Regions from separate parts of the Homo sapiens genome. Here regions 1, 2 and 4 are each linked to region 3. Evidence: fine-mapped expression QTL. A gene starts in region 3. Each other region holds a variant in brackets. All regions are shown on one strand. Distances are between the middles of the regions.

The links.
Region 1: its variant is fine-mapped to the expression of MANBA in whole blood (INTERVAL, PIP above 0.99). The same link has a PIP of 0.9 or more in CD4 T cells.
Region 2: its variant is fine-mapped to the expression of MANBA in whole blood (INTERVAL, PIP 0.96).
Region 4: its variant is fine-mapped to the expression of MANBA in whole blood (TOPMed, PIP above 0.99).

The regions. Positions count from the first base shown.
Region 1 is chr4:102,701,061-102,709,060 of GRCh38, reverse strand. All of the region lies in intron 5 of MANBA (mannosidase beta), which reads left to right. Among named protein-coding and RNA genes, the nearest start is that of MANBA, 56 kb to the left of the region's middle. The variant A/T (reference allele first, on the strand shown) is at 4,687.
Region 2 is chr4:102,489,717-102,497,716 of GRCh38, reverse strand. All of the region lies in intron 1 of NFKB1-AS1 (NFKB1 antisense RNA 1), which reads left to right. Among named protein-coding and RNA genes, the nearest start is that of NFKB1, 7.6 kb to the left of the region's middle. The variant TGTGTTAACA/A (reference allele first, on the strand shown) is at 4,753.
Region 3 is chr4:102,756,145-102,764,144 of GRCh38, reverse strand. It overlaps MANBA (mannosidase beta), which reads left to right and starts at 3,177. Exons shown (of 17, transcript NM_005908.4): 1 at 3,177-3,427. The coding sequence starts at 3,251. RefSeq lists a silencer at 3,013-3,142 and an enhancer at 3,233-3,582.
Region 4 is chr4:102,632,750-102,640,749 of GRCh38, reverse strand. It overlaps MANBA (mannosidase beta), which reads left to right. Exons shown (of 17, transcript NM_005908.4): 14 at 893-1,037; 15 at 4,743-4,885; 16 at 5,705-5,962. Among named protein-coding and RNA genes, the nearest start is that of MANBA, 120 kb to the left of the region's middle. RefSeq lists enhancers at 2,126-2,626, 2,627-3,127. The variant G/A (reference allele first, on the strand shown) is at 4,864.

The DNA.
Region 1 (8,000 bases), 55 kb after region 3:
ACATGAGCCACTGCGCCTGGCCTCTATTTTTTTGTCAGTCAGTATTGGCAGGTTGTATGTGTCCAGGAATTTACCTATTTTCTCTATGTTTTTCAGTTTGTTAGCGTATAGTCGTTCATAATAGTCTCTGGTGATCTGTTGTGTTTCTGTAGTATCAGTTGTAATGTATCCTTTCTCATTTCTCATATATATATTTTGTATATAATAATATACAAAATATTAGTATATTTTGTAAACGTGTATTAGGTTCATTTGGTCTAAAGTACAACTTTCTGATTTTGTTTATTTGGGTCTTCTCCTTGATTAGTCTACATAGGGGTTTATCAATCTTGTTTTCAAAAAACAAACTTTTCATTTCATTGATCCTTTGCTGTTTTTTTTGTCTCTATTTCATTGAGTTCTGCTCTGATCATTATTATCACTTTTCTTCTTCTAATTTTGGATTGAGTTTGTTCTTGTTTTTCTAGTTCCTTGAGGAGCATTGTTAGGTTGTTTATTTGAAATCTTTCTACTTTTTGGATGTAAGTATCTGTTGCTATAAACTTCCCTCTTAGCACTGCTTTTGCTGTATTCCATAGGTTTTAATATGTTGTGCTTCAATTTTTATCTGTTTCAAGACTTTTTTTATTACCTCCTTAATTTCTTTCTTGACCCAATTGTCATTTCAGAGCATGTTGTTTAATTTCCATGTGCTTGTGCAGGTTTCAAAGTTCCTCTTGTTATTGATTTCTAGTTTTATTCCGTTGTGGTCTGAAAAGATACTTGATATGATTTTAATTTTTAAAAACTTGTTGAGTCATTTTTTTGCCTAACATATTATCTATTCTTGAGAATATGCTATGTGCTAATGAGAAGAATGTGCATTTTGTAGCTATAATATATTTTTTAAATGTGTATTAGTTTCATTTGGTCTAAAGTACAGCTTAAATACAGTGTTTCTTTGTTAATTTTTTGTCTAGATGATCTGTGTAATGCTGAGAGTAAGATGTTGAAATCCCCCACTATTATTGTATTGGAATCTATCTGTCTTTAGATTTGGTAATATTTGCTTCATGAATCTGGGTTCTCCAAGTTGGGTGCAGATATATGTAGAATTATTATATTCTCTTGTGGATTTGATCATTTTATCATGATATAGTGACCTTTTTTGTCTGTTTTTACTGTTTTTTGACTTAAACTTTGTTTTATTTGATGTTGATATAGCTATGCCTGCTCATTTTTATTTCCATTTGCATGGAATATATTTTTCCATTCCTTTACTTTCAGTCCATGTATGTCTTTAGGGGTGAGTTGAGCTACTTGTAGGCAGCATATAGTTTGGTCATGTTTTTAAAAAATCCTGTCAGTCAATTTATATCTTTTAAGTGGAAAGTTTAATTCATTTACCCTCAAGGTTATTATTGATATATGAGGGCTTATTCCTGTCATTTTATTAATTGACTTCTGGTTGTTTTGTATACCTTTTTTTGTTTCTATTATTGTTTATCACTGTGGTTTGGTGTTTTTCTGTAGTGTTAACATTTGGGTCCTTTATGATCCTCATTTGTGTTTACTCAACCAGTGGTTTTATGCTTTTATGTATCTTCATGATGGTAGATATTGTCCTTTTGCTTCCATATGTAGAACTCCCTTAACCATTTCTTGTAGGTCTGGTCTAGTGGTGATGAATTCCCTCAGCTTTTGCTTGTCTTAGAAAGATGATTTGTCCTTTATTTATGAAGGATAAATTTGCTGGGTATGGCATCCTTGGCTGGGAGCTGTTCTCTTTCAACACTTTGAATATATCATTCCATTTTTTCCTGGCCTGTGACGTTTTTGCTGAAAAATCTGATCTGCTGTTAGTGTGATGAGGGTTTCCTTATAAGTAACTAGGTGCTTTTCTCTTGCTGATTTTAGAATTCTCTCTTTGTCTTTGACTTTTGACAGTTTGACTGTAATGTGCCATGGAGAAGGCCTTATTGAATGGATCTGTTTGGGAATCTCTGAGATTTTTTTATCTAGATATTAAATCTCTTGCCAGACTTGGGAAGTTTTCAGCTATTATTTTGTTAAATAGGTTTTCTCTCTTTGTAATTTTCTGTTTGCTTTCTGGCACACTGAAAATTAGAATATTTAGTCACTTTATGGTATTCCATATGTCATGTAGTCTTTTGTCAATCTTTTTTATTCTTTTAAAAAAGTTTTGTTTGACTGGTTTACTTCCAAAAATCTGTCCTCAAGTTCTGAAATTCTTTCTTCTGCTTTCTCTAATTATTGTTGAATAACTAGATTCTTCAGTTCCAGAATTTATGTTTGGTTCTTTTTTATTATATCTGTCTGTTTTGTAAATTTCTTATTGATACTTTGAATTGTTTTTCTGATTTCTTTTTTTTTCTGAGTTATCTTGCATCTCAATGAATGTCTTTAATTTCCTTATTTTGAATTCTTTATATGGGATTTCATACATTTTATTGGAATCTGTTGTTGGATAATTATTGTGTTCCTTTGAAAGTGTCATATTTCCTTGCTTTTGCATGTTTCTTGTGTCCTCATGTTTATATCCACGCATCTGGTATAACAACCACTTCTTCTAATTTTTTTGAATTCTCTTTTATAGGGGAGGAATTTTTCCTGAAGATGTATCTGTGGTATTGTTTGGGTAGGGCACTTTTGCTTTGATTTTGAGTGCTTGCAATAGTATAGTTTCTGTTTGATTTCTTCAGCTGTAAACAGCATCAGTGGTGTTTGTGATTTCCTCAGTGGCTTAGGGTATAGTTGTTAGTGGAGGCTGTAGTGAAGTTTTGCTGGGGATGGGGTCATCAAGAAGGCCAGTCCTTGGACTTCACTGGTGGCAGCAGCAGGCTGAGTGTGCCTGTCCTTGGGCTTCAGTGCAGTATATGCTGGCACTGGTGTTAGTGAGTCCAAGCATGATGAATCTTGGGCCTCCAGGTGACTGGCCTGCTTGGGTGCTGGCAGTGGCAGTGGTAGACCACTGGTCTGGATGGCTGGGTCTTCAGGCCCCTGGACAGCAGGTATGGCATGGGAAATGGCAGTAGCAGTGGCAGGACAATCCTCTGGTTTCCAAGAAGTCTGCATTGGTGTTGACAGTGGCTGCAACAGGCTGGGCACACTAGTCCCCAGGCCCGTAGGTGGCACATGCAGGCAGATGTTAGCTGTGGTAGTAGCTGCAGGTTTAGTGGGCCTGTCCTCAGGCTCCTGGGAGGAGTGCTGAGGTACCAACAGTGGTGGATGGGGCAGGGTCATCCCCAGGCTTCCAGACCATTTGCTCAGGCACTGAGTGGGAGTGTAGAGCCAGGGCAGGCCTGTCCTCAGACCCCTCTAGTGGTGCATGTGGGAGCTGGCTGTGGTAGGCAGGCATAGGATGATATCCAGACCACTGGTGGAATGCTTGGGTGGGGGCAGTAGTGACTGTGCTGCTGCCCTGCTCCTGGGGAGGATGGGGTTGCTTTCAGTGGCAGTAGCTATAGGTGACTGGAGAGCATGCACTTTCGCTCCAGGTAGTGGAGATAAGCAGGGTAGCCCTTCCACAGGGTGTTTTGAAATGTGCAGCAGCCCTGCTCCTGAGGGGGTGGAGTTGCTTCAGCATTGGTGGCAGCAGCCAGCAGCAGTGCCTGGCTACACTTGGGGATGTCAGTAAGTCTCCAGGAATGTGGAGATGTAGGGGCTATTAAGCCCAAAGTCAGCCTGCAGTCCATTCGGGGCTAGACTCTCAAAATGGTGCCTTGCTTTAACCGCTTAGGAGCTCCCTCTCTGGAGCAATGCCATTGCATATCTTGTAGCTCCCTATACTAGTCCTGGGGGCTGCGAGGGTGGAGGTGCTCTCTCATGGCTAGGATTGCAGGAGTCCATAATGGGAATGTAGACCACTGGAGGCCACTCACTTACCTTCTCCCAGCATTGGGGAGCCTCTCCAGGCTTTCAGCTGGTCCCTGCTAAGCAGGGTTCCTTCCTTTTCTCTCCTTCCTTACCTTAGGTGTTTTCTGTCACTTCTCTGTTGAATTTCAGTGTTTTTTGATAGGTGATCTATCTGAAGGGGTTCTTCTTTGTGGAGGTGGCAAATACCAGATGCCGCTAGTCAGCCATCTTGAAGCTCCTCCCTCATTTTTGAAATATTATGACAGTAATATATTTTGTACTTAACATAGAGAAATATATGTTTCCTGTTAAGAAGATGTGCTTTGTGCATGTTAAGCAGTAATTCCTATATTTCTAATTAATTTTATAGTTATCAATTTGGTTGTTTGATGTAATAAAATTAGAGTGTAAGCTCATGAGAGCATTAAAAGAGTTCTACCTTTAGGAGTTTCTCCAGAATTTTTTTTTTCAATTTTTATCTGGAAGACAGCAGTTATCACTGATATCAATAGACGTTTAAACATTGAAAAATAATAAAAGAATAAGCTAATGTGGTCTGGATACTTTTATGTATTTATTTGGTATATACTATGAGGCAGGCACTGTGAGAGTTACTGAAAATTTTTAAAAAAGCTTAGTTCATAATAAAAAAAGGTACATATAATTTTTATTTAAAATAAAATGTATTCATTTTTAAAATTTAAGTGTGAAATGAGGTGGGTCAAAACTAATGCAAGGCTGGGCGTGGTGGCTCATGCTTGTAATCTTTAGCGCTTTGGGAGACCAAGTTCAAAGGATCACTTGAGGCCAGAAGTTTGAACCAGCCTGAGC[A/T]GACATTGTCTCTACAAAAAATAAAAAAAATTAGCCATGTGTGGTGGTATATGCCTGTAGTCCCAAGTATTCGGAGGCTGAGGTGGGATTATAACCGCCCAATAAATTCACCTTGCCTGCTGCCTAGACAGAGCTGATTTATCAAGACAGGGGAATTGCAACGGAGAAAGAGTAATTCAGGCAGAGCTGGCTGTGTGAGAAACCAGAGTTTTATTATTACTCAAATCAGTCTCCCCAGACGTTCAGCATTTGGGATCAAATTTTTTGGTTTTTTTTTTTCGAGATAGAGTTTTGCTCTGTTACCCAGGCTGGAGTGCAGTGGCGCGATCTTGGCTCACTGCAACCTCCACCTCCCAGGTTCAAGTGATTCTCCTGCCTTAGCCTCCCGAGTAGCTGGTACTACAGGTGTTCGACACCACGCCTGGCTTATTTTTTGTATTTTTGGTAGAGATGGGGTTTCACTGTGTTAGTGGGGATGGTCTTGATCTCCTGACCTTGTGATCCACCCGCCTCAGCCTCCCAGAGTGCTGGGATTACAGGCGTGAGCCACCATGCTGGGTGGGATCAGAGTTTTTAAAGATAATCTGGTGGGTAGGGGCTTGCAAAGTGGGGAGTGCTGATTGATCAGGTTGGAGATGGAATCATAGGGGGAACGAAGTAAGGTTTTCTTGCTGTCTTCTTTCCTGAGTGGGATGGCAGAACTGGTTGAGCCAGATTACCAGTCTGGGTGGTGTCAGCTGATCCATCCAGTGCAGGGTCTGCAGAATATCTCAAGCACTGATCTAGGTTTTACAATAGTGATGTTATCCCCAGGAGCAATTTGGGGAGGTTCAGACTCTTGGAGCCAGAGGTTGCATGACCCCTAAACTGTAATTTCTAATCTTGTAGCTAATTTGTTAGTCCTGCAAAGGCAGACTCGTCCCCAGGCAAGAAGGGGTCTTTTCGGGAAAGGGCTGCTATCCATTTTGTTTCAGAGTCAAACCATGAACTGAATTCCTTCCCAAAGTTAGTTCAGCCTACTGCCAGGAATGAATAAGAACAGCTTAAATGTTACAAGCAAGATGGAGTAGATTAGGTCTGATTTCTTTCATTGTCATAATTTCCTCAGTTATAACTTTGCAAAGGCAGTTTCAGGAGGATTACTTGAGCCTGGGAGGTCAAGGCTGCAGCGAGCTATGATTATTCCACTGTATTCTGGCCTGGGTGACAAAGCAAGACCCTGTCTCAAAAACAAACAAACAAGTAAACAAACAACAACTAATGCAAACAGTAGCTATCTCTGTAGTAGTGTTAAAAATGGTTTGCATTTTATTCTTCTGTGTAACTGTCTTTTCTAAATTTCTATATTGGGCATCTGTTATATATATGTATATGCAGTAAGTGGATAAAGTAGTTATTAAAACAAACTAATTTAGTCTAGTAACTTCAGCTAACTTGATATGAAAGCCTAAACTAATTTGTCTATGGGACACTTTCTGCCTTCCCCCTGTTGAGGCTAGAAAGAGATACTGTCATCTTTGTGCTTTTTCAAGTGTTCAATTTATATCTTGACTTAAAATTAGTGAGTTTACTCCTGAAGATCAAAGGACCAACCATAGTTCCCTAACTTGTGTATGACAGAAAGAAGGCTATTAAACATTTAAAAATTAACGTGAAATTCTTGTGAATTCATTTACTTATATATATGTATATATCTATGTTTCTTTTCTGTATTCTTAGTCCTTAAAAATAGTGGTTTCTACAGGGTCTGGAGTGGACCTCTAGCAAACTCCAACAGACCTGCAGCTGAGGGTCCTGTCTGTTAGAAGGAAAACTAACAAACAGAAAGGACATCCACACCAAAAACCCATCTGTACATCACCATCATCAAAGACCAAAAGTAGATAAAACCGCAAAGATTGGGAAAAAACAGAGCAGAAAAACTGGAAACTCTAAAAAGCAGAGCACCTCTCCTCCTCCAAAGGAACGCAGCTCCTCACCAGTAATGGAACAAAGCTGGACGGAGAATGACTTTGACAAGTTGAGAGAAGAAGGCTTCAGGCGATCAAACTACGAGCTACAGGAGGAAATTCAAACCAAAGGCAAAGAAGTTAAAAACTTTGAAAAGAATTTAGACGAATGTATAACTAGAATAACCAATACAGAGAAGTGCTTAAAGGAGCTGATGGAGCTGAAAACCAAGGCTCGAGAACTACGTGAAGAATGCAGAAGCCTCAGGAGCCGATGCGATCAACTGGAAGAAAGGGTATCAGTGATGGAAGATGAAATGAATGAAATGAAGCGAGAAGGGAAGTTTAGAGAAAAAAGAATAAAAAGAAACGAACAAAGCCTCCAAGAAATATGGGACTATGTGAAAAGACCAAATCTACGTCTGACTGGTGTACCTGAAAGTGACGGGGAGAATGGAACCAAGTTGGAAAACACTCTGCAGGATATTATCCAGGAGAACTTTGCCAATCTAGCAAGGCAGGCCAACATTCAGATTCAGGAAATACAGAGAACGCCACAAAGATACTCCTCGAGAAGAGCAACTCCAAGACACATAATTGTCAGATTCACCAAAGTTGAAATGAAGGAAAAAATGTTAAGGGCAGCCAGAGAGAAAGGTCAGGTTACCCACAAAGGGAAGCCCATCAGACTAACAGCGGATCTCTCAGCAGAAACTCTACAAGCCAGAAGAGAGTGGGGGCCAATATTCAACATTCTTAAAGAAAAGAATTTTCAACCCAGAATTTCATATCCAGCCAAACTAAGCTTCATAAGTGTAGGAGAAATAAAATCCTTTACAGACAAGCAAATGCTGAGAGATTTTGTCACCACCAGGCCTGCCCTAAAAGAGCTCCTGAAGGAAGCACTCAACATGGAAAGGAACAACCGGTACCAGCTGCTACAAAATCATGCCAAAATGTAAAGACCATGGAGACTAGGAAGAAACTGCATCAACTAACGAGCAAAATAACCAGCTAACATCATAATGACAGGATCAGATTCACACATAACAATATTAACTTTAAATGTAAATGGACTAAATGCTCCAATTAAAAGACACAGACTGGCAAATTGGATAAAGAGTCAAGACCCATCAGTGTGCTGTATTCAGGAAACCCATCTCCCATGCAGAGACACACATAGGCTCAAAATAAAAGGATGGAGGAAGATCTACCAAGCAAATGGAAAACAAAAAAAGGCAGGGGTTGCAATCCTAGTCTCTGATAAAACAGACTTTAAACCAACAAAGATCAAAAGAGACAAAGAAGGCCATTACATAATGGTAAAGGGATAAATTCCACAAGAAGAGCTAACTATCCTAAATA
Region 2 (8,000 bases), 270 kb after region 3:
AATAGTAACACTGTAACTGGGAAAAAATCTGTGGGAATGTAATGCATTCCCACATACCAAACATACATGTAACATGTAAACATACATATTTTAGACATGTTTAGTATGACAGATTTAGTGAGATGTCCATATGGAAATGACTAATAAATATGCAATTGAAAACTCAAGGCTGCTGCTCAGAGAGACATGGCGTTGGAAATGGAAACAACTGCAAAGATGCGATAGTTGTCAGGAGAGTGTTTCTAAAACATTAGTGGTCAAAGAGTTAGGAGACAAGGGGCTAAGTACAGGAATTCGAGGAATGACTTTATTTCTGGGGTTGGTATGAGAGAGAGATGCTTAAAAACTCCTGCAGTGCCATCAAAAGTGGGAGGAAAGCTCAGAAAGCCAGAGAAGAGAGAGTTTAAAGGGTATGAGAGCTCTCAACAGTGTCAGATACTGCAGACAGTTCCTAAAGGATGGAGAGGGGAAGAGACAGTTGACTTTGTGAATTATAAAATCCTAAGCCCGGCCTCGGGGCATGGCTGTGCAGCCAAGGGCAGAAACCAGTCTTTCTTCTGTTCACTCTGCTCGCTGTCTTGGAGGAAAAGGGAACTTTATTAACTCTCAAATAGCACTGATACGCAGTGGCTGTGGTCTTACATGACTTTTTCAGATGTGTTTCAATATAATGAGGAAAACCAAGAATGAGGAGACTGACAAGTGAGTGGGAAATGGGGAAACGAGGGCATAAGTGCAAAAGAATCTCACCAAGAGTTTGGAGTGAGAGGGAAGGAAAGAGGAGTTAGTGTGATTCTTCATTTATTTGACTAACACTTATGGAGTGCCAGAGTTAATGGAAGTTTGGAAAGGTGGAGAGATAGTTTAACGAGTTAATAGCGTTAATAACAGAAAGATTAATGAGGGAGCCGGAGCCAGAAGAAAGGAGACTGTGCGGAGCTCGTAATGTAGGTGAGGAGGCAGGAACAAATCTGCCTGTGTGAGATATGAGGAGGAAGAGTACAGAGAAGAGAGGCCCCAAGAAGAGGGGGAGGATTAGGCTATAATCATCAGCTGAAATACACTAAACCAAAAATGAGAATAAACCCTTAGAGAATGTGTTTGTTAGGGCTGCCAAAACAAAATATCTCAGACTGGGTGGCTTAAACAACAGAAATATTTTTTATCGTTCTAGAGACTGGAAGTTCAACAGCAATGTGTTGGCAGCATTGGTTTACTTGAGGGCTTCTCTCCTTGGCTTGCAGATGGCCATCTTCTCCCTGTCCTCATGTGGTTGTCCCTCTGTGTCCACGTCCAAATCATTTCGTCTTATAAGGACATCAGTCATATTAGATTAGGGCCCATCCCACTGTCCTCATTTTAACTTATATACCTCTTTAAAAACCCTATCTCAAAATCCAGTTACATTCTGAGGTACTGGGGGTTAGGACTTCAACATAGGAATTTCAGGGTGGGTGACATTATTCAGCCCATAACAGAGAGATATCTTTTAATGATTTCTATGAAGGCATGGAAATAGAGACTTAACTCATCCCGGTTGATCCAGGACTATCTTGCTTTTAGCACAGAGAGTCCCTTGCGCAGGAAACCCTCAGGCTCTAGTAAACCAGGGTGATTGGTCATGCTATATGAAGCCGACAAAACTGTTCTGAGTGAAATAAGGCTAGTTACTGGACATCATTGAGACAGCTGCCAATTACTTGTTTTTATGGAGGAGGTTTGCTTCTGTTTTCTGAAAGGTTGTATATCTGGCTGTCAAATCTATTCATAAGTGATGGTCTGACACTTATACATGCCTCTTTAATAAGATAAATATGGTTTTGCATATATATAACTCCTGATAAGCTTTTACAGAAATCTGAAAGAAATGTGAAATTATGTCATTTATTAATATATTGTTAATAAATACAAGTTATTAATATTAATATACTATATTTATTATATTAATAATGTTATATGATATTTACTTTATAACTATTGCAATATAAAATTAATATTTATATAATACCAATTATATAATTATTAATAATAATATAAAATAATAATTGTACACATCAATATATAATTATTGATTTATATATAAAGCTATATATAATTTATAAGTTATATAATTCTATATTATATAGAAGTCAATATATAATTTATTATATATTATAACTATTGTATATTATATATCATATACATTTATATATAATATATTGTTTATGTATAAATTATATGTTTAATAATATAATGATTATATTAACAATAACATTAATATATAATATTAATATTAATGTTTTTGTATATTAATATAATAAGCTTGGATTTTGGAAGCATGTTATATGGCTCCCTGGGTCTCAAGATTTGATGTTTCAACAGTTACATTCCTAGTCCATTATCTTTTGTAACATTTCCTCTCTTTCATTTTCCCTAGACTTGTTTTCTGGAATTTAAATTAGGTATATGTTAGATCTTCTCAATCTAATCTCTGTGTCTTTTAATATCTCTTATCTCTTTGGATTTCATTCTGGATAATTTCTTTATATTTGCCTTCTAGTTTATCAATTCTCTTTTCAGCTATATTTCATATGCTGTTTAATATGTCAACTGAATTATAAATAATAAATTGCTTACGTTTCTTGAAACAATCTCTGGAAATTATTTGAAGCTTAGGTTAAAATTGAGTAAGGAATATTTGTGCTTCTTTTTGCCTGTTATCTGGTATACTATTAACTTGGAAAAACCTTAAATAAAATTTTTTACTTGTGTGCTTTTGATCATCACATATAGTGTAAGTGGTTATGAATTCACAGGTGAGAATTTCTTCTTTTTCTGTCCAGTGACAAGGACTAGATAGGCAGTGTTATCGTTTGAACATGTCCCCCAAAGTTCCTGTGTTGGGACTTAACTCCCCATTCAACAGTGTTGAGAGGTGAGACCTTTGAGAGCTGATTGGGTCATGAGGTCTCTACCCCCATAAATGGATGAATGCCATTATTGTAGGAGTAGGTTACTTTCTCTCTTGAGTGTCTGCTCTTTTGCTCTTCTGCCTTTCACTATGGGATGATGTAGCAAGAAAGCTTTCACAAGATGCTGGCACCTTGATATTGGACTTCCCAGCCTCCAGAACTGTGAGATACAAATTTCTTTTCATTATAAATTACCCAGTCTGTGGTTTTCTGTGATAGCAACACAAAACAGACTAAGTCAATTTCTCAGCTATTCCCTCCAGTTTTTCAGTTTTGGAAATATTTAGATTCCTGAATTTCATGCCGGCTAAGCAGTATTAATTTTTAAAAATATGTTATGTAGCATTTCAGTTATTTCCATTAGTTATTTCATTTTAGTTATTTCAACCAGGAAGGGTATACTGTCAGAAACACATGGAGTCATTACCTATTTTTAAAATATGTATATTTTATCATTCTAGCATCTATCATATATTTAACTCCTAATCTTTAATTATATCTTCTTGAGTGAATTTATTACTTTTTAGAAAAGTTTTCACCTGGCTCTTCTAACAGTTCTATTTCAACAAAACACCTGTTTGAAGTGTTTATCTTAGTTTTCCTCTCTGGCTTGCTAGTACTACTAGGGCAAGTTATTATTTTCCATTTCCTGTTCAGACCTCAGGCTCTGTATACACTGACCTATAATTACAGGACAAGTAGTTAGGGTCTTTTATGCAGTGGCAAACCTGCCAGGGGAAAGGTTTCTGCTTTTGTGGGCTGGCAGTAAACCAACTGGCAATCTGTCCACACCCAGCTGAAGCTTTAAAAAAAGTCTTTCTTCTCCCAGAGCTCCCTGGGTGCAAGGGAGAATGCTTGCCTAACCTCAGGGGCTACAAGCAACTCTTCCATGAGTGCAGCGTTCCTCCATATGACCTGTCACTACCCAGATTAGTCTGACCTTCCCAAGAACACACACAAATAAGCCCATGTAATGCTTTCCTGAAGGCATTCATAGGTTTCCTCAGGCTAACTTTCACTGGAAGCCATAAAATTGAGACCTTTGTTTTAAGTCTTTCTATAACAAGGCCCTCCAGACTACCTAAAACAGAGAAGAGTGAGAGTATCTCTTTCCTTTTAGAGACCCTGGAGCCTGTGACCTCAAGTGACCCTGCTTTAGATGCCCCTGCTTACCTGCAGTAGCATTTTTTCTTGTTGGGGAAAGTAATTGAGAAGAGATTGGGAGGGTAAATTTGGGGACCTGTGTTCCATTACTATCTTCTTACAATGCTGTGAGTCACATGTCTACTTTTAGTGACAAGGAGGGTCTATCTCATCTGGAAGACATGAATTAGTAATGCTAGATTATGGTTAGCTAAGCGTAAATTGGGGCACTGTTATCAAAAAAAGGAAGAAGGGAAGACAAAGAGTATAAACAACAGATATCACCTCTATGTAGCACCTGTAAGGCTTATGCATAGTAGGTATACATAGATATACTTATCTGTTTTACTGATAGACATATCAGTAGATATACAGATCAGTTTTTTACTGCATTTTCTTTGAAATAAGTAATATAATTAAATGCCAGGAAGAGAGTTTTTTTCCAATGGCGTATTATAAATTATCAATATAATGCTGAGCATATACTTATCTTGGTTAGGATGCTTTTCACCTAAGGTGAAAAGATGTAAAATTATGACTCAAAATGACTTAACCATTATGGAATTTCATCAGGTCACATCGTTGAAAATCTTTAGGTTTAATGTAATCACAATTCTGGCTCTCTTCCCTTCAGAGACATTTTCTTTTCTTCTGTCCC[TGTGTTAACA/A]GTTTCCTCATGCTGGCTTTTCTCTTGGTCAAAAGATGGCTTCCAGATATACTAGGGACATACTTTCTTGTTGTAAGAGATGGGGTTGGGGGATTGGAGAGAGAGAGAGAGAGAGAGTTGTTTTTGATATATATATATACCCATGAGACCATCACCATAATAAAGACAGTGACCATGTGCATCAGCTGAAAAGTTTTCTCATGGCCCTCTGCAGTTCCTCATTTCCATTCCTCACTCCTCCACATTCCTAAGCAACCACTGATTTGCTTTCTGTCATAGATTAGTTTGCATTTTCTAGAGTTTCATATAAATGGAATCATACAGTAGGTACTATTTTTTATCTGACTTCTTTCATTGAGCATGATTATCTTAAAATTCATCCACCTTGTTGTATCAGTAGTTAATTCCTTTTTATTGTTGAGTAGCATTCCATTGTATAGATAGTCACAATTTATTTATCCATTTTCCTGTTCATAGACATTTAGGTTGTTTCCAGTTTTGGGATATATTAATAAAACCACTAAAACATTTGTGTGTAACTATTTAACTGTTTATATAGACATATACTTTCTTTTGTCATGGGAAATACCTACAAGTGAAATGGCTAGAGCGTATAGTTAGCATACATGTAACTTTTTAAGAAACTGCAGACTGTTCTCCCAAAGAGTATATTATTTTATATTCCCACTACAGGAAATGAGAGTTCTAGCTCCTTCATATATTTGCAATCCTTGGTATGGTCAGTCTTTTTTATTTTAATCGTCTCAATTGATATGTTTAGTGGTATCTCATTGTGCTTTACTTTGCTTTACCCTAATGACTAATGATGATGGGCATCTGTTTATGTGCTTATTTGCCATTTGGTGAAATGCATGTTCAAATGTTTTGTTTACTTTTGGTGTATTTTTTTTCTTATTATTGAATTTTGAGAGTTCATTTTATATTCTGGATAAAAGTATTTTACCAGATATATGATTTGCAAATACATATTTTTTAGCCTGTGACTTGTCTTTTCATCCTCTTTTGCAGAGAAGATTTTAAATTTGATGAAGTATAATTTGTCAGTTTTTTACTGCATTGTGGTTTCAGTGTTGTATCCACATACTCTTTGCCTGACTCAAACTCACTAAGATTTTCTCCTCTATTTTCTTCTAGAACTTTTGTAGTTTGAGGACTTAAATTCAGGTCTATGATACATTTTGAGTTAAGTTTTGCATATAGTGGTACAAGATATGGATTGAAGTTTTTTCTTTTTAGATTATTGATTTCCAACTGATTCTGCAGCATTTGTTGAAAAAAAAAACTATCCTTTCTTCACTAAATTGCCTTTGCAAATTGTTAAAAATCAGTTGTATCTGTATGTCTGGACTCTATTTTGTTCCATTGATCTTTTCTCTATCTATATGATAATACCACACCTTTTTGATTACTTTATAGCTTTACAATAAGTCTTGAAATCAGGAAGTGTTAGTCCTCCAACTTTGTTCACTTTTTCAAGGTTGTTTTGGCTATTCTAGGTCCTTTGCATTTCTGAATTCATTTTAGAACCAGCTTGTCAATTTCTACAATAAGTTTGTTAGGGTTTTGATTTGGATTGCATTAAATCTCCAGAACAACTTGGGAAGAACTGCTATCATAATAATGAGTTTTTTGTCTCATGAACAGGGTATGTGTCTCCATTTACTTGGACATTCTTTAATTTCTCATAGTTGTGTTGTATGTTTTTCTCTATTTAGGACTTTCACATCTTTTGTCAGATTTATCCTTAAGTATTTATATTCTTAGTGCTATTTAAATAGTGTTTTAAAATTTTAATGTTAAGGCCGGGCACAGTGGCTCACGCCTGTAATCTCAGCACTTTAGGAGGCTGAGGTGGGCAGATTACTTGAAGTCAGGAGTTTGAGACCAGACTGGCCAATGTGGAGAAACCCCATCTCTACTAAAAAAAAAAAATCAAACATTGGCTGGGCATGATGGTGTGCAGCTGTAGTCCCAGCTACTTGGGAAGCTGAGGCAGGAGAATCACTTGAACCTGGGAGGCGGAGGTTGCAATGAGCCAAGATTACGCCACTACACTCCAGCCTGGGTGACAGAGTGAGACTCTGTCTCAGAAAAATAAAATACAATTTTAATGTTTAATTTCAGTTTTTCATTGCTAATATATAGAAATACAATTGATTCTTATTTATGGATCCTGCATCTTGCTACTTTGATAAATTCATTACTCTAGTAGGTTTTTTTTTGTAAATTTGATTGGATCTTCTACCTAGATGATCATGTCATCTGTGAATAAAATAGTTTTACTTCTTTTTTAACCTAGATGCCCTTTATTTCCTTTTTTTTTGCCTGATTGCGCCAGTTAGAATCACTGGTACAATGTTCAATAGATGTGGTGCAAACAGACATCTTTGTTTTATTCCCAATTTTAAAGGAAAAGCATTAAATCTTTTCCTATTAAGTATGATGTTTGATCTAAGTTTTTGTAGAGGTCCTATGTCAGGATAAGGAAGTTACCTTCTATTTCAACTTGGGTGAGATTTTTTTTTTAAATATCATTAATGTGTTGGCTTTTGTCAAATGTGTTTTCTGCCTGAATTGATACGGTCATATTATTTTTCTTTTTTAGTTTGTTAATATATTGAAATTCATTGATCTTTGAATGTCAAATGAATGCTGCATTCCTAGGATATCTCCCAGCTGTTATTCATATTATCCTTTTTATATATTGTTGAATTCAATTTGCCAAAATTTTGTAAAGCACTTTTGCATCTATGTTTATTAAGGATACTTGTCGGTAGTTTTATTTTCTTGTAATGTCTTTATCTTGTTTTGGCCTTAGGATAATGTTAGCATTTTAGAATGAATTGAAAAGTGTTCTCTCCTCTTCTAATTAAAAAATATTTTAATAGGTATTTGGGTAACAGGTGGGGTTTGGTTACACGGATAAGTTCTTTAGTGGTGATTTCTGAGATTTTGGTGCACCCATCACCCAAGCAGTGTACACTGTACCCAACGTGTATTCTTTTATCCTTCACCCCCTCTTCCACCCTTCCCTCTGAGTCCCCAAAGTCCATTGTATCATTTTTATGCCTTTGTGTCTTCATAGCTTAGCTCTCACTTATAAGTGAGAACATACGATGTTTAGTTTTCCATTCATGAGTTATTTCACTTAGAATAATGGTCTCCAATTCCATCCAGGTTGCTGCAAGTGCCATTATTTTGTTACTTTTTATGGTTGA
Region 3 (8,000 bases):
GATAGAGTGATGACTTCCAAGGTCCTTACATGCCAGGCCAGAAATTGGAAATCTATTATTGTTTTGACCCATGCATTATTTAGGAATATAATATATTATATTCCTAATTATATAATTATATTATATAATATAATTATATTATATATTTTTATATATTTATATTATTATATAAATTATATATATTTAAAATATATATTTGTATATGTATGTATATATGTATATATACAGTATATGTATGTATGTATATATACAGTATATGTATATATATACGTATATGTATATATGTATATATACAGTATATGTATATATATACACAGTTTGCTGACATAGGCCATGTGTCCTCTAGTTGACTTCTTGGACTCTCTTGGGTAGAATCCCATTATACTGGCTCAAGCCTGGTTACTTCCTACGGTGTCCTCTTGGTTTATAGGAAACTCATGCATATGCATCCTTGACACACCAAATTCTAGTGGTGTACATAGTTTCCACTACCTTCTCTCTTTGTTCTAACATTTGGGGCTTCAAACTCTGGGGAAGTATGTCAAACCTTTGGGCAGGATACTTATGGGCTATTATCCCCAGTCCTGGGGTTTAATCAGACACTATGAGTCTAAAGGCAAATGTCCACTCCACATCTGATTACTCTTTCATTTTCTTTCCCTTATTATAACTTCTGTAATATATCATGGGATTGGAATATCATTGGCCTTGGTATATACCATGGTGTTCTAATGAGTTTACCAATTTTATATATTTAGATATGAAGGAAATGTTGTCATATAGCAAAGGGCCTAACTACTTCCATTGGTCTGTTGTGACAGGATACTGACCCTACACATCATTTAATCACCGTGGGCATTATTTATCTTTTTAAACCAGGGAACGATCACTTGTTCTAAATAATTCAAGTTTTGGGAAGCATCAAATGAAATGATCAAAATGAAATCTGTTTATACAGTGTAAGTTAAAGATACCCATAACTATTTTAAACATTGCATTTGGTATCATGACTTTAAATTACATAAGTTGAGAAGTTTTATGTTATCTCTAAATAAGGTTTATTTACCAGAAAATCATGGACAAAAATTATCCTATAACAAAATGAAAACATCATGTCATCTGTGCCAATTGCAATTTTAGGAAGAGTACTTATTAGGGCTTTGATTATTCTTTGATGTTCTCTGTTGTCAAAGTGAAGTAACCTAAATGATGTTATGCTTGCATCCTGGAATGAAAGGAGGAATGAGAATCTTCTATTATTGTTTTTCTAAAAATTATATTTCTTAATAAACAGAATATATCCATATGTATCATCAAGGATGAATTTTCCTCTGATTTGGCTTAATGAAATCTCTGGGAATTATGAAAAAATTCCTTTGCCGCTCTTGTTGCCATAAACCTTGTGTTATCAGTGTTGCACAGACCATGGCTAGCCATTTAATGCCGTGAATTATGGCATATAATTTGAATTGAGAGCTTTGTTTCTATCAAAGGTAAAAATGCTTCTGGAGTGAGTGAGGAAGGCTTTGAAGCAGTGAGAGCGTTTCCCCTATAGCATCATTGGGCTCTGACAGTAGGACCTTGAAGAGGAGGGTTCTAATCCTGTCTGCCACTATGTGACAGGCAAGTCACCTGATCTTTTTTTTTTTTTTTTTTTTAGAGTCTTTCTCTATAGCCCAGGCTGGAGTGCAGTAGTGCCATCTCGGCTTACTGCAACCTCTGCTTCCTGGGTTCAAGCGGTTCTCCTGCCTCAGTTTCCCGAGCACCTGCGACTACAGGCACGTGCCACCACGCGCCCAGCTAATTTTTGTATTTTTAATAGAGACAGGGTTTCACCATGTTGGCCAGGCTGGCCTCGAACTCCTGACCTCAAGTGATCCACCCGCCTCGGCCTCCCAGAAGTGCTGGGATTACAGACGTGAGCCACCGCGCCTGGCCCCGATCTCTTTGAACTCAGTTCCCTCATCTGTAAAGCCAGCGGCTTGGGTTGGATAATCCATACTGTCCTTTAAGCCAAGATATTCAGGGCTTGTAAATAATGCTGACTTTGCAAAGTAAGATATTGCCCGGTGTCTGCAGAATCAGGCAATTCCAAGGCCATTGTAAGGCGAAACAAAGCTCAGATTTGATGAGAGAAAATTTCTTTTCAAGGACTTCTTCCGAAGCATAAATATACGGCAGATAGCGTCAACACAGGAGAAAGGCAGTCTATTTTATGCAATGTAAAATTCCGTCTTAACTTCTAGGATTACTGTTACATCCTATTGCAAAAATGGGACTCAGGTAGACCATTTGACTACAAGACCCGAAATAAGTCAGTGGTATTTCTTGGGTACTCTGGCATTGTTAGGGACGATCACATATGTTTACTCATTTTATACTTATAACACCTTGAAAACTTCAAGAAACGGAGATGGAGATTTTGCGGCTTGCCCAGGTCCCACAGCTAGTGAGTGCAGAGGATTTTAAACTCAGCTGCGCGCCTAGTGCAGGTTCCAGAACCTCAGAAACCTCCGTGGGGCTTTATGAAACATAAGGACGCAGGCCGCTAGTAACAATAGCTAACGTGAATGCCTTCTCTGGGCCAGGCTCCATGCTGCATGCTATAGTCGCATTTTCTTGGTTAGCCCTCAGAACAACCTTCTGATGGAGATACTGCTAGTACTTGTTTACTCTTTGAAGGGCGGGGTAGGCTCTGAGACCCGCGAGTTGAGCTGCAGCGGGGTGAGTGTTACGCTACCAGGTAGACGAGGGTCTGTGTAAATTTGGCGGAAGGGAAGTGGTGGGTTGTCTCCCAGTTTGGGTTCTCTGAAGGAGTGAGGGGACTCTCCAGCTATGGTCTCCACGTACAGTCGGTCTCTGATCTCCCGAGGCTTTGTGCCACTGCGCGCCCAGGGATCTTTCTGTCCCAATTACCGTGCAAGATTCTTGCCTCCAGTTGTATGTACTGAGGCGGCGGGAAGAAGCGCCGAGGGAAGGCTCAGACCGCAATGCCCCCCAGCCTGTAGCTATTCTCGGGGGCTGCAGCTCCCGCACCCGCGACGCCCGGCTTTCAGCGGGTGCAGGCGCAGCCTCCTCGTTCCCCTCCCGCCCGCGGCTGCGCCCGGAGAGCGCTCAGCTGACCTAGGGGCGGGGCCGGGGCGGGGACCTAAAGCCTCGGCTACTTCCGAGGGGGTGAGTGGCTTCACCGCCGGTCCCTTGCAGCGCTGCCTTTCGATCTCTCCACATCTCGGTGGCGCGGGATCTCAAGATGCGCCTCCACCTGCTCCTGCTGCTCGCGCTGTGCGGTGCAGGCACCACCGCCGCGGAGCTCAGTTACAGCTTGCGTGGCAACTGGAGCATCTGCAATGGGAACGGCTCGCTGGAGCTGCCCGGGGCGGTCCCTGGCTGCGTGCACAGCGCCTTGTTCCAGCAGGGCCTGATCCAGGTATGGCGTGCGGCCGACCCGCGGCGAGCCTGCGCCCGCCTTCTTCTGGTGCTGAGAGGGGCCCAGGAACCGCCTGGCAGCCCCCAGCTCTGGGCCATTCTCGTCGGTTTGGTAGTAACTTCCCCTTTGCATCTTGTGATCTGCGGGGGGAAATGCCCAAGCTATGGGGTACGGGCTTGACGGAGACTGAGCGACCGACCCATGTTGGGACATCAGTAACTCTGGAAAGGGGAAGTTTAGATAGGGGAACAGTGTTGCTACTAGCAGTTTACTTACTGCAGTCGTTCTCTACTGAAGCGTGTATACAAAGGGCATGCCGTCACTGACAAGCATAAGGTCGGGAATTACTGTCTCTACTGTCTGCACGCCACAGGGGACAACAGCGTTTTGTTAAGTAAGGGTTAACTCTATTGAGTAATGTCTCGGTTTTTTATTTTCGCTGTTAAGCGTCAGGGAGTCAGATTTGGGATTGACGCAGCACAGACGTTGTGGAGAATGACCTACAAGAGTAAAGTTGGGTTTGTCAGTGCTAGTGTGGCTAACAACGGGTAAATAATTTTTAAGGCTAACTTGGTGATGAAGAAAGGTGCTATTTCCTCTCAGGGCGTGTGTGTGTGTGTGTGTGTGTATCCCAATGGAGTCTCCAATTTACAGACTACTTGTGGGGAACGTTTTCGTGTTTGGCTGCCTGTGCGCATAGGTTTGCAAACTGACTTCCATCCTCCAACTGCTTTTGCTGTTCCCTCTTGCACAGCGTTCCCACGTGTTGTCTTTACTTGGGGCAAAATGTACTTGTAATTGATCTACTTGTGGGATGCATACATTGTCCAATCCTCATAACAACTCTGTATAGTAAGTGTTCATATCTGAATTTTATGGATAATATGGAATTATGGAACACAGAGAAATTAGGAAGGTGACAGCAACTAAATGGAAAGAAATGGAATTCTAACCCAGGTGGTCTCAACTCCATAGCCTGGTCTCTATACTATGTGGTATGCTTAGTTTGGTGTTTTAAAAAATCATGTGTTTTTGAAGCACTGTGGCTGACTTTCAGGAGCACCATTCTAAGTTTATTTGCATGACAAGGTGGTCATCTAGGGTTGTGCCAAATTTCTGACCTGGTACTTAGTAGTTTTTTTTTTTTTTTTCCTGAGATGTGTATCAGAAAGGAGGTGAATGTTGTAAATGACATTGACCATTGTCCGATGTATTTTTAGAGTAGATCATTCCCAAACTTTAGTACTTTATTTTAAGTTGACAAACTACTTGTGATAGAGAACACAGCTGACCACAGTATACTCTGAGTTTTCACTTATATCTGCTTTGAGAATGCCTGTGTTTATTTTGTAGGGTTCCTCCTTGCCTGATTTTACTGAAATAATTAAGCCAATGGGTGCTGGTACGTGAGAGCTTTGGGAGGCCAAGGTAGGAGGATCCCTTGAGTCCAGGAGTTCAAGACCAGCATGGCCAACATAGAAAGAGTCTATGAGGCCGAGGTGGGAAAATTTCTTGAGGCCAAGAGTTCAAGACCAGCATGGCCAACATAGAGAGATTCTATCTCTAAAAAAAAAAAAAAAGAAAGAAAGAATTAAGCCAATGGGAAATAATGAGTGGCTTCAGTAAGTCAGATTATTGTGCCATATTACAGAGCTAAGAAGCTAAGAAACAACGTTTGGTTACAACAGATACTTAATGAAAATGAATTTGCTCATAGTATGAAATAACTTCCTCATAGGAACAATTTGAAGAGATTTCTTAACTCTCTTCATAAATTCTTAGCAAAACCTTGAGGTTTCAATCAGGTGGCCATGGGTCTCAAATGGCAGTGGAATGAGAAATGGGAAGGCTTTTGGGGCTTAGGAAACACAAGGCCTGTTGAAAATAATCATCAGGCTGGGCACAGTGGCTCATGCCTATAATCCCAGCACTTGGGAGGCAGAGGTAGGTGGAGTTTAGACCAGTCTGGGCAACTGGCGAGACCCTGTCTCTACAAAAAATTAAAAAATTAACTGGGCGTGGTGGCGTACACCTGTGGTCCTAGCTACGAGGGAGGCTGAGGTGGGAGGATCGTTTGAGCCCAGGAGGTTGAGGCTGCAGTGAGCCGTGATCTGTACTCCAACCTGGGCAACAGAGTGACACCCTCTCTCAAAAAAAAAAAAAAAAGAAAAAAAGTAAAGAAGCAATCATCAACATCAGATCAGTATCGTTATTCAGTAATGTGAGACTGTTGTCCGACCTGCTTTATTATAACATCCCTTTTTGGTGTTGACTTGAGGAAATATTCTACCGTTTATAGTAGACACTGGGCCAAATATTGTGTTTGTGTAAGAACTTGAAACATATCTTGGTGATATCATTCATTTATTTATCTATTCACCTAGTTAATTATCTCATATTTATTTTGTACCTCTAATGTGGCAGGCACTATTCTAAGTACTTGAAATCGAGTGGTAAAGAAAACAAAGTCCTTTCCCTAATGGACATTCTAATGGAGGAGATAGACATATATACCAAATTAATAAATAATGTAAGGCAGGTGGCACACTGAAGAAAAATTGAGCAGGTTAAAGGAAGAGACAGTGAAGGCTGGTTGGAAAGCATTGCTATTTTTTAAAAAGTGGTTCAAGATAGGTATTTTGATAAGGTGACTTCTAAACAAAAAGACCTGTTTGAAAAGGTCACTTTTAAGGAGAAGTGCATTTCCAGCAAAGAGGAAAAACACAGGAGTGGGGAGGATAGAGGCCCTGAGGCAGGCACGAGCTTGACAAGTTTCAGGAATAGTCAGCAGGCCAGTGTGGCTGGAGACCTGGGAACCAGAGGGTAGGAGAGGAGTTCAAAGTCTAGGGCACATCATGAAAGGCTGTGAGCCATAGGAAACACTTTGGCTTTTATTCTACATGTGATGGGAAGTTATTGGAGGCTTTGAGCTTAGAGTAGCATGATTAGATTTGCCTTTTTAAAGGTCACTCTGTTGTGTGAAGGCTACAGTGCAGGAGAGTGGAAGCCTGGAGACCAACCAGGGGACTATTGCTGGTCTATGTATGGGCAAGAGATGACTTCTGGCTTGGACAAGCATGGTGGCAGTGAAATGGTGAGAATGGTTGTGAGAACACGTTTTACATGTAGAAACAAGAGGATTTCTTCAGTTGGATTTGTTAATGGATTGGGAGACAGAAGGGGGAGGTGCAGGAAAATACCAGGATTTTTTTTATCTGAGCTGGTTAAATGAAATTTGTATTTAGTGAGAGATTCTGTGGCTAGTCTTGGCTATTTCCTAGGTGATTCTCTGGGTTTTCTGTACAGAATCTAAACCTTTGGTTTCTTAGAGAGTCTTTTGGGTTCTCTGTGAAAAGTTATTCCTTCAGCCTGCTATTTTTTTTTTTTTGAGACGGAGTTTCGCTCTTGTTGCCCAGGCTGGAATGCAATGGTACTATCTCGGCTCACCGCAACCTCTGCCTCCTGGGTTCAAGAGATTCTCCTGCCTCAGTCTCCCAGGTAGCTGGGATTACAGGCATGTGCCACCATGCCTGGCTAATTTTGTACTTTTAGTAGAGACAAGCTTTCTCCATGTTGGTCAGGCTGGTCTTGAACTCCCAACCTCAGGCCATCCACCTGCCTCGGCCTTCCAAAGTGCTGGAATTACAGGCATGAGCCACCGTGCCTGGCCCTCAGCCTGCTATTATGCCACACAGTGTAATAGGCATTAGGAATAAAAAAAGAAATTGAGAGTGAGACTATAGTTCCTATTTTGTGGGAGGCCACTTTAGTGAGGCAGAAAACTAAATAATTTCCATATGTTATGTTAAGTGCATACATAAAGGGACCCTTGTTAGGAATGTTCTCAGCTTTTCTGTGGAATTTCTCACTGGTGTAAGTTTTGAAGCAACTGCTTCTTTTTTTTTTTTTTTTTTTTTTTTAGATAGTCTCTGTATGCCAACATTAAAATATATAGATAAGTAAGAAGAAGGTTGGAAACATCACTCCCAGAGATAACCACTATTTTTTTTGACAGCTGTTCATGTGACTAATGCCCCCAACAGTTTTATATATTTATTTATTTTTATTTTTTATTTTTTCCCTTTTTTTGTTATACTTTAAGTTCTAGGGTACATGTGCACAACGTGCAGGTTTGTTACATATGTATACATGTGCCATGTTGGTGTGCTGCACCCGTTGACCCGTTAACCTCATTTACATTAGGTATATCTCCTAATGCTATCCCTCCCCCAGCCCCCAACCTCATGACAGGTCCCAGTGTGTGATGTTCCCCATCCTGTGCCCAAGTGTTCTCATTGTTCAATTCCCACTATGAATGAGAGCATGTGGTGTTTGGTTTTCTGTCCTTGTGATAGTTTGCTCAGAATGATGGTTTGCAGCTTCATCCATGTCCCTACAAAGGACATGAACTCATCCTTTTTTATGGCTGCAAGGTATTCCATGGTGTATATGTGCCACATTTTCTTAATCCAGTCTATCATTGTTGGACATTTGGGTTGGTTACAAGTCTTTGCTATTGTGAATAGTGCTGCAGTAAACATACATGTGCATGTGTCTTTATAGTAGCATGATT
Region 4 (8,000 bases), 120 kb after region 3:
TCGACTTAGTCTTTTGGTGGCCATATGCACCATTCTTTTTATTCCTCTGTGAAAACCCCAGCCCTATTCTAAGGCCTTCTTGTTCTCTGAAATCCTCGCTGCTCTGACCATCTCTGGGTTCTCCTCAGTGGTCCATTCATGAGCCCCTCCTCAGCACAACTCCAGGCTAAGAGCATGTGATTCATATGTGTCGGTAACGGCAGCGATAAAAGAGACTGATTTTTCCATGATGGTGTCGGTAATCAAGGGTCCTGTGTGAAGTTCTTTAGTGTCTCTTAAACAAGAACTAAATTCATTTGTCTCATTGCTGCAATTTGCCATCTGTTCTGCTACAACGAAGGAATTGCATTCATGAGAAATCTTACATTACCAAAAATCATGACATCAAAACAATTGTTTGACTAGAAAAAATAATTAGGGATTGGATAATATCAGACTCATAATAACAATGTTATTTTTCTTATAGAATTTTTTCTAGTAAAAGTTTTTCTTAAAAATAGCTATGAAGGTATTAGCAAAATTTTTCAGTGAAAATAATCTAGTTTTGGACTATATATAGCATTTGCTCTGGAATAGTAGTCTTTGTTTTTCTTTACGGCCTACACTATCATTAGCAGAGAACCTTTTACACCATCCTATTTCCATTGTCACCATAATGAAACACCAAGTCTACCAGACAAACCCACTGTTACAGACAACAGCTTCTCTCATGCTAAGGGGCTAGTTACAGATCTAGTATAATGTATTCCTAATACTAATTAAATTCCCTAATTTTATCCAAATTGCTCCAAAAAGAAAAAACCCAAAACAAAACTAAACCCTGTATTTTTCTCAGATCTAGGCAGTCTACATCAAACAATAACACCTGTGTATGAATGTTTTCCTGAATCAGGTGATGCAGGCCCAGTGTGTCAAAACAGAAACTGAATTCTACCGCCGTAGTCGCAGCGAGATAGTGGATCAGCAAGGGCACACGATGGGGGCACTTTATTGGCAGTTGAATGACATCTGGCAAGCTCCTTCCTGGGCTTCTCTTGGTAAGCATTTCAGCGTTCTTTGTGCGAGTGAGAGAAAGCAACACTGTGGGGAGAGGGACTGAGAAAGCACAGTGCTGGAGGGGTCAGATTAGCCCAGGCAGAACTATGACCAAAAGAGTCATTCTTTAAAAAGCCTGCCTAGGAACTACAGCCACCCAACTCACCTTAGTAGCCTTTCCATGAGCCTTAGGGTCAACCTAATTATGGGTTCTGTGCTGTGCAAAGTTGCAACAGCAGGCTAAGCATGGGATAGATTCCTATACAAAAGTCTCAGCCATGTGTCTTGTTATTACGCATAGAATTTTGAATTTATTTAAGAGGGCATTCCAGGGCTAAAGAAGCATGAACTTAAGCATCCCTTCTTCTGTGTTGGAGAATTCAATCAGGTAGAAGTTTGGCCCGCTTATGTGTTAAAGTTTCCCTTTCTCTGATTCACCTTTAAGGACAAATAAAGATGTCCTTTAAGGACATAATGAAGATGTCTCTTAAGGCCATCTTTATTATGCCCTGTTTAGCTCTTGGGGAAAAGCTAGTAGAGGCAGAATCCCGAATGGGAAAGGTGACCAGTTGAAACAGTTCAACTAGCAACAGGTGAGATGACTGGCATGGAACCTGCAGTTCGAATTATCCCATCTATTCTGGTACATTAAAAAAAATTAAGGAATAATAGTCTTTGCCCTTCACTAGAGATGACTTGAAACAAAGTTCAGTTAATAATGTAAAGAATAGTTTGGGGTCAAAAACGAGGCAAGGCCACAAAGTAGAAAGGTTGGGTGAGGTTCTTTTTGTTTTTTTTGAGACAGAGTCTTGTTCTGACACCCAGGCTAGAGTGCAGGGGTGAGGCTCTTAAACTGGCTGTGAATGCAGATCAAAAGAAATTCATTCCAAACATGTTTTCATTAGTGCCAGATGGATGACTCTTACAGAGAATTGGATTTCTAATCAAATTTCTCTGACCAAACTCTTTATCAGCACCAACCAGATAAGAGAGCATTGAATGAGAATCAGGGGTAGAATTGGGGGGAAAATCCTTCTGGGATGCTGGAAAGGTAGGCAAAGAGATAACTGTTCAGAGACTCTTGGATACTGATCCTGCTTTCTGTCTGTGGATGAGGTTGTGGACTGAAACTGAGTTCGATTCAAGAAATGGGAGAGCCCAATTTTTGTAAATATTCCTTTAAGTGATCCCATGCAGATTATTCCTGAGTTCCTCAGGAAGAGTAGGTCTGTGGGAAACAAGACACTCAAACTCTAAGTGGTTTTTTGTTTTGTTTTGTTTTTTTGTTGAGATGGTCTCACTCTGCTTTTGCCCAGGCTGGAGTGCAGTGGTGCAATCATGGCTCACTGTAGCCTCCACCCCACAGGCTCAAGCCTTCCTCCCACCTCAACTTCCTGAGTACCTGGGTCTATAGCTGCATACCACCATGCCTGGCTCATTTTTGTATTTTTTTTCTGGAGACAGGGTTTTGCCATGTTGCCCAGGCTGGTCTTGAACACCTGGTCTGAAGCAGTCTACCCTCCTCAGCTTCCCAAAGTGTTGGGATTACAGGCATGAGCCACCGCACCTGGCCTAAAAGTGCTTTGTTAATTCCCTCACTCCACAACAACAATCCACACAGAAGACTTCTGTGACCAAATATATGGGAAACTTCCCCCACACACCAAGCAAGCAATCACTTCTGCAGTGGACACCATGCGAGTGCCCTCCAATTTAAGTCTGACACTATCTACCTGCAGATTGCATCAGATTCCATAGGTTGAGAACTCAGTTCCACAAAGCTGCCTTCCCTCTTTAGACAGCAGTCGCAAGTCTGGGCCTCTAGAACTTCTGACTGACCAGCTTCAAGCTGGGGTTCCCATGACCCCTTCTTTGGGTTTAATTTGCTGGAATGGCTCACAGAACTCAAGGAAACATTCTAACTGCTGTATTACAGAGGATGTTTTAAAAGACACAAATAAACAGCCGTATGAAGAGATATATGGGGTGAAGTCTGGAAGGGTCCTGAGTGCAGGAACTTTATCCCTGTGAGGCTGGGGTGTGCCACCCTCCAGGCATGTAGATGAATACTTGTTCCTCTTTCTGTCAGCCTTCACATGGTCAGCTATGTGGAAGTTCTTTGAACTCTGTCCTCTTGGGCGTTATAGGGAGACTTCATTGGACAGCCATGATTGATAACCATGTAGAAATGTGATTGGACAAAGCGGGTATGATCTAATACCATTAGACTGAGTGGGGAAACACAGCAAGGCCTGTCCATTCAGCTTCTTGGCCTCTCTGTGAAGCATTTCCTCCTCCAGGGTATGAGGCAGGACACCTTCTGAATGAGTGTCTTATGACCCACAATCGGATTAGAGACCTGCCTTGGGCTGGTGAAAGGAGGGAAGGAGATCAGAGAGATAGATTCTGTTTTCTGAGGCCTGCTTTTGAGTCCTAAAGCTTCTCAACATTATAACAAGAGTCTGTAACAAGGGCTATGGTAGTTGTGAGCTAGGAACCTGTATTAGTCTGTTCTCATGCTGCTGATGAAGACATACCTGAGACTGGTAATTTGTAAAGAAAAAGAGGTTTAATGGACTCACAGTTCCACATGGCTGGGAAGACCTCACAATCATGGCAGAAGACGAAGGAAGAGCAAAGGGACTTCTTACATGGCAGTGGGTAAGAGAGGACTTGTGCAGGAAACTCCTTCTTTATAAAACGATCAGATCTCGTGAGACTTATTCACTATCACAAGAACAGCATAGGAAAGACCTGCCCCCATGGTTCAGTTACCTCCTACCAGGTCCCTCCTACAACACATGGGAATTGTGGGAGCTACAATTCAAGATGAGATTTGGGTAGGGGCACAGCCAAACCATATCTAACTGTAGAAGAAAAATTATATATGTATATATAATAATATTACAGTAGGAAAACCCAAGTACCAGAGCTTGGCTGTTTTCTAAACCCTGGCAGGATCCTGCCTGCCTGAGGAGGATCACCAGCTCCTTGTACTTATTAGACAAAAAGGTTATCCGGGAGAAGCTGTGACAAGTTTTCTATATCTGCTTCTGCTCTGGGGGCCTCACAGCCCCATGTTGATTGGCTCAATAAATCCACTGCTTCTAGTGCGTGCAGTAGGGGAGGTATTTGTTATCTCTTATCACCCGAAATGGTTATATATTAAAGCAATCAATAGCTACCTAGAATCTATAAGTTATTATATACAGTCATGCACCGTATAACATTTCAGTCAACAACACAGTTCATATATGATGGTGGTCCCATGAGATTATAATACTGTATTTTCACTGTCCCATTTCTATGATTAGAATTACCTACAGTATTCAGCACAGCAATATGCTGTACAGGTTAGTAGCCTGGAGCAACAGGCTATACCATATAGTCTAGGTGTGTAGTAGGCTATACCATCTTGGTTTGTTTAAGTACACTCTATGATCACACAATGATGAAATTGCCTAACAGCATGGTTCGTTAATGCCTGCCCTGGTTCGTTAGTGCCTGCCCAGATGTTGTGAGGGTGACATGACATAATGTCCAGAGTGCTCAGAGCGCTTCACAAACATGGGTGCCCTCCACTGTTGACTCTCCCTCACATGCTCACTCCCTTAGAACCCCGATGAGCCACAAACAGCTGGGCCATTGGACAGTGCCTCTCTGACTACTTGACCTTGCCGTCTCCTGACACTCTTGATTATTTTCAGAGTACGGAGGAAAGTGGAAAATGCTTCATTACTTTGCTCAGAATTTCTTTGCTCCACTGTTGCCAGTAGGCTTTGAGAATGAAAACACGTTCTATATCTATGGTGTGTCAGATCTTCACTC[G/A]GATTATTCGATGACACTCAGTGTAAGTTACTTGGATTGTTTTCTAAGATCGAAGGAGACTTTTAGATGATTTCTTTAGTTGTTTGGTTACATTCTTTTGGGAAAATAAAAGAGAAATTAATTTAGAGTTAGAATACATATATTCAGGCTACAACCCTGCCATTAATCATGTGACCATAAGCAAAACCCTTCACATCTTGTTGATTCAATTTCTTCTCAGTAAAATGATACCAGTCTCTCTTCTTACAGGATTTCTATGAGTAGGAAATAAAATAACTAGATGAAAGCAAATCACATATGCTATAATGTGCCCCTTAAATGCAAGGTTATTTATAATTGTGAGAGGCTGGAAATAGTCCAAACTTTATAAAAAGAAATGGTTAAAAATGGCATGTTATAGTGAAAATCAGTAAAACTATTCAGAATGCGCATGTGGAAAGCAAATTTGTTTTAAAAAACAAATTTAAGTAAAAAGAAAGGCTAGAAACTCAAAGTCTTAGGTGGCTATAGTTTGGAGGACACTAATAACACTGAAAATAGGTCACATTTACAGAAAAATTACAACGCACCAGGTACTGTGCCTTCCGTGGATTATTTTTTAAATTCTCACAACAGCCTGTGACATTACTGCTGTTATTTTCATTCTACATATGAAGAAATGAAGACTGAGAAGTTACTTAGTCACATAGCTAGTATTTTGCAGGACTGGGATTAAAACTCAGGTTTCATAGTCTCTTAACCATTTCTGCTAACCTGACTTTCAGCAATTATTACTACTATTGTTCCTTAAAAACATAGCAACCAAGAATGCCTGTTTTTATTCTGTTTTATTTCTCCCCAGGTGAGAGTCCATACATGGAGCTCCCTGGAGCCCGTGTGCTCTCGTGTGACTGAACGTTTTGTGATGAAAGGAGGAGAGGCTGTCTGCCTTTATGAGGAGCCAGTGTCTGAATTGCTGAGGAGATGTGGGAATTGCACACGGGAAAGCTGTGTGGTTTCCTTTTACCTTTCAGCTGACCATGAACTCCTGAGCCCGACCAACTACCACTTCTTGTCCTCACCGAAGGAGGCCGTGGGGCTCTGCAAGGCGCAGATCACTGTAAGCACAGGTCATGGCGGAGGGCAGGGGACTGTGGCCTTGTGGGGTTCTCCTGCTCTTGGGCCAGCTCCTTGCATCCTGAGATTTGCATGTGTCCCCCTTGGTGCTGAGTTTACCTGAGGCCTGGGGGAAGATTGGCCTCTTCCCACTAAAAGCAAACACCAAATGATTTCTATTTCGAATCCAGGATTTGTCAGAGTTGCTGGTGACCACTACTCGTTTGTCCCATCACCCCTCCTTAGTGGGCAGGTGCAGTGATGGGAGAGGAAGCTCGAGTCATCACCACTGCCTGCATGCCCACTAGGTTCCAGGCTGTGTTCTAGGTGCTTCACCTCATAGTCTCTGACTTTCACCACAGCTCCAGGCATTATCATCTGCATTTTGTAAGTTTGGAAGCCAGTTTAGGAGGTTAAGTGATGAGCTCGAGGTCCTGTAGCTGGGAAGCATTGGAGCCCAGCTGACGCAGTCTAATTTTAAGTAGAGTCTATTAATATTCACTCTAGTCTCTTTGATTTATTGCTTCAAAGTAGCTCAATCACCAAATCTTTTTATAATTGCCAAGATATAAAAATGGGATGATCAGGATGTGTTGTTATAAAAATTGTGCAGCTGGAGAATTTGGAATTTGTCTAGTAGGTTGAAAACCTTTCCTTCCTTCTCCCCTACACATAGCAGTTGGAAATATATGTACACATATATGTTTTTAATTTTATTATCTTATCTTCTGGACACTCAGGAAATATCTTTCTAGAAAGTTACATTCTCTGTTTTTAGAAAATTTTAAATTTGTTTTACACTTTTACTTCATAGAAAGGGATTTTCTACATTTAATTTAGAAATAATCATATAAAAACACCTAATTCTTGTGTTTTATTTGAAAGAGCCTAACAACTGAAAACATACCTTCTTTCTATAGTCACATAATAAAATCCAAGTTATCTGTAACAACTAATAGAGAACAGAAGAAAATGACAGTCTTACATATATTTTTTTCCAAAAAAGAAAAAAAAAACCACTATGTACTGGATGAATTTTCAGTCTCTAAACTTATGATTTTGAAAACCAAATTTTTTTCTTTCCTGAGTTAGGCCTTCATTACCTTGAGGTGGGTAATTGGGGTGGGAGAAAAGCAGGGCTCTTTCTTTGTTCTATCTCATTTTGATTTCAGTGAGACTTGTCCTTCTTAAAGAGATAAAATGATAGTAATAATACTGTTAGTTAATGTTTAATTCGGGGCTAATATAGACTAGGTATTTGGCTTCTTTTCTCAAGGGAGATGCCAGAAACTTGTTCTCCCTGTCTCCCTGAAGCCAGGGTGCAAGCTTGAATCCCAGGCTCTGCAGTCAGACATACAGAGAGGAGATTTCCAATCCAACGAAGATAACCAGCATAAGCATGACACCAGCATCTCTTTCGGCCTTGGTCTTGGAGCAGCAGAAGCTGATGCTACCCTGGCAGCTTCCTGGGCAGGCTGGCATGAGCCGCATGAACCTTGTTCCTGTGGCTGCTTTAGGACCTTCACTGGAACAGCTGGGCGGTGCGATCTGGGAATTTGCCATCCAAATTCAAGCCTGAGTCTCTGATCCTGAAGAGCAACCTGATACGCTTTATTAAGCTTCTTTTCTGCTTCTATCAATATAGGTTTCCTTGTGTATAACTCAGAACCCTGAATGATAACATATTACACAAATATGTAAGGCTAAATTATATATAGTGAAAATGGCCCTTTGAAATTCTTTATGTCACACATAACATATAATGTAAGACTGAGATGTTGCATGACAAATGCACAGATTAAGAAACCAGGTTGCACTCAGCTCCGTGCTCACACAAAGAGAGGTTTGCAAACCCTCCCACTCTGGGGAGCAGCGCATCCTCACTCTGGGCATATGCTATTCGGCTACTTAAGAGGAATGGAGCCAACACGATTTAAATTGCACTGTCTCTTTTTGCTGCTATTTTGTGGAATTCACACATGTAAAAAAAATGCTAATAATGTGACTTTACTTAACTATGCAGTAAAAGAGATAAGCTCTAA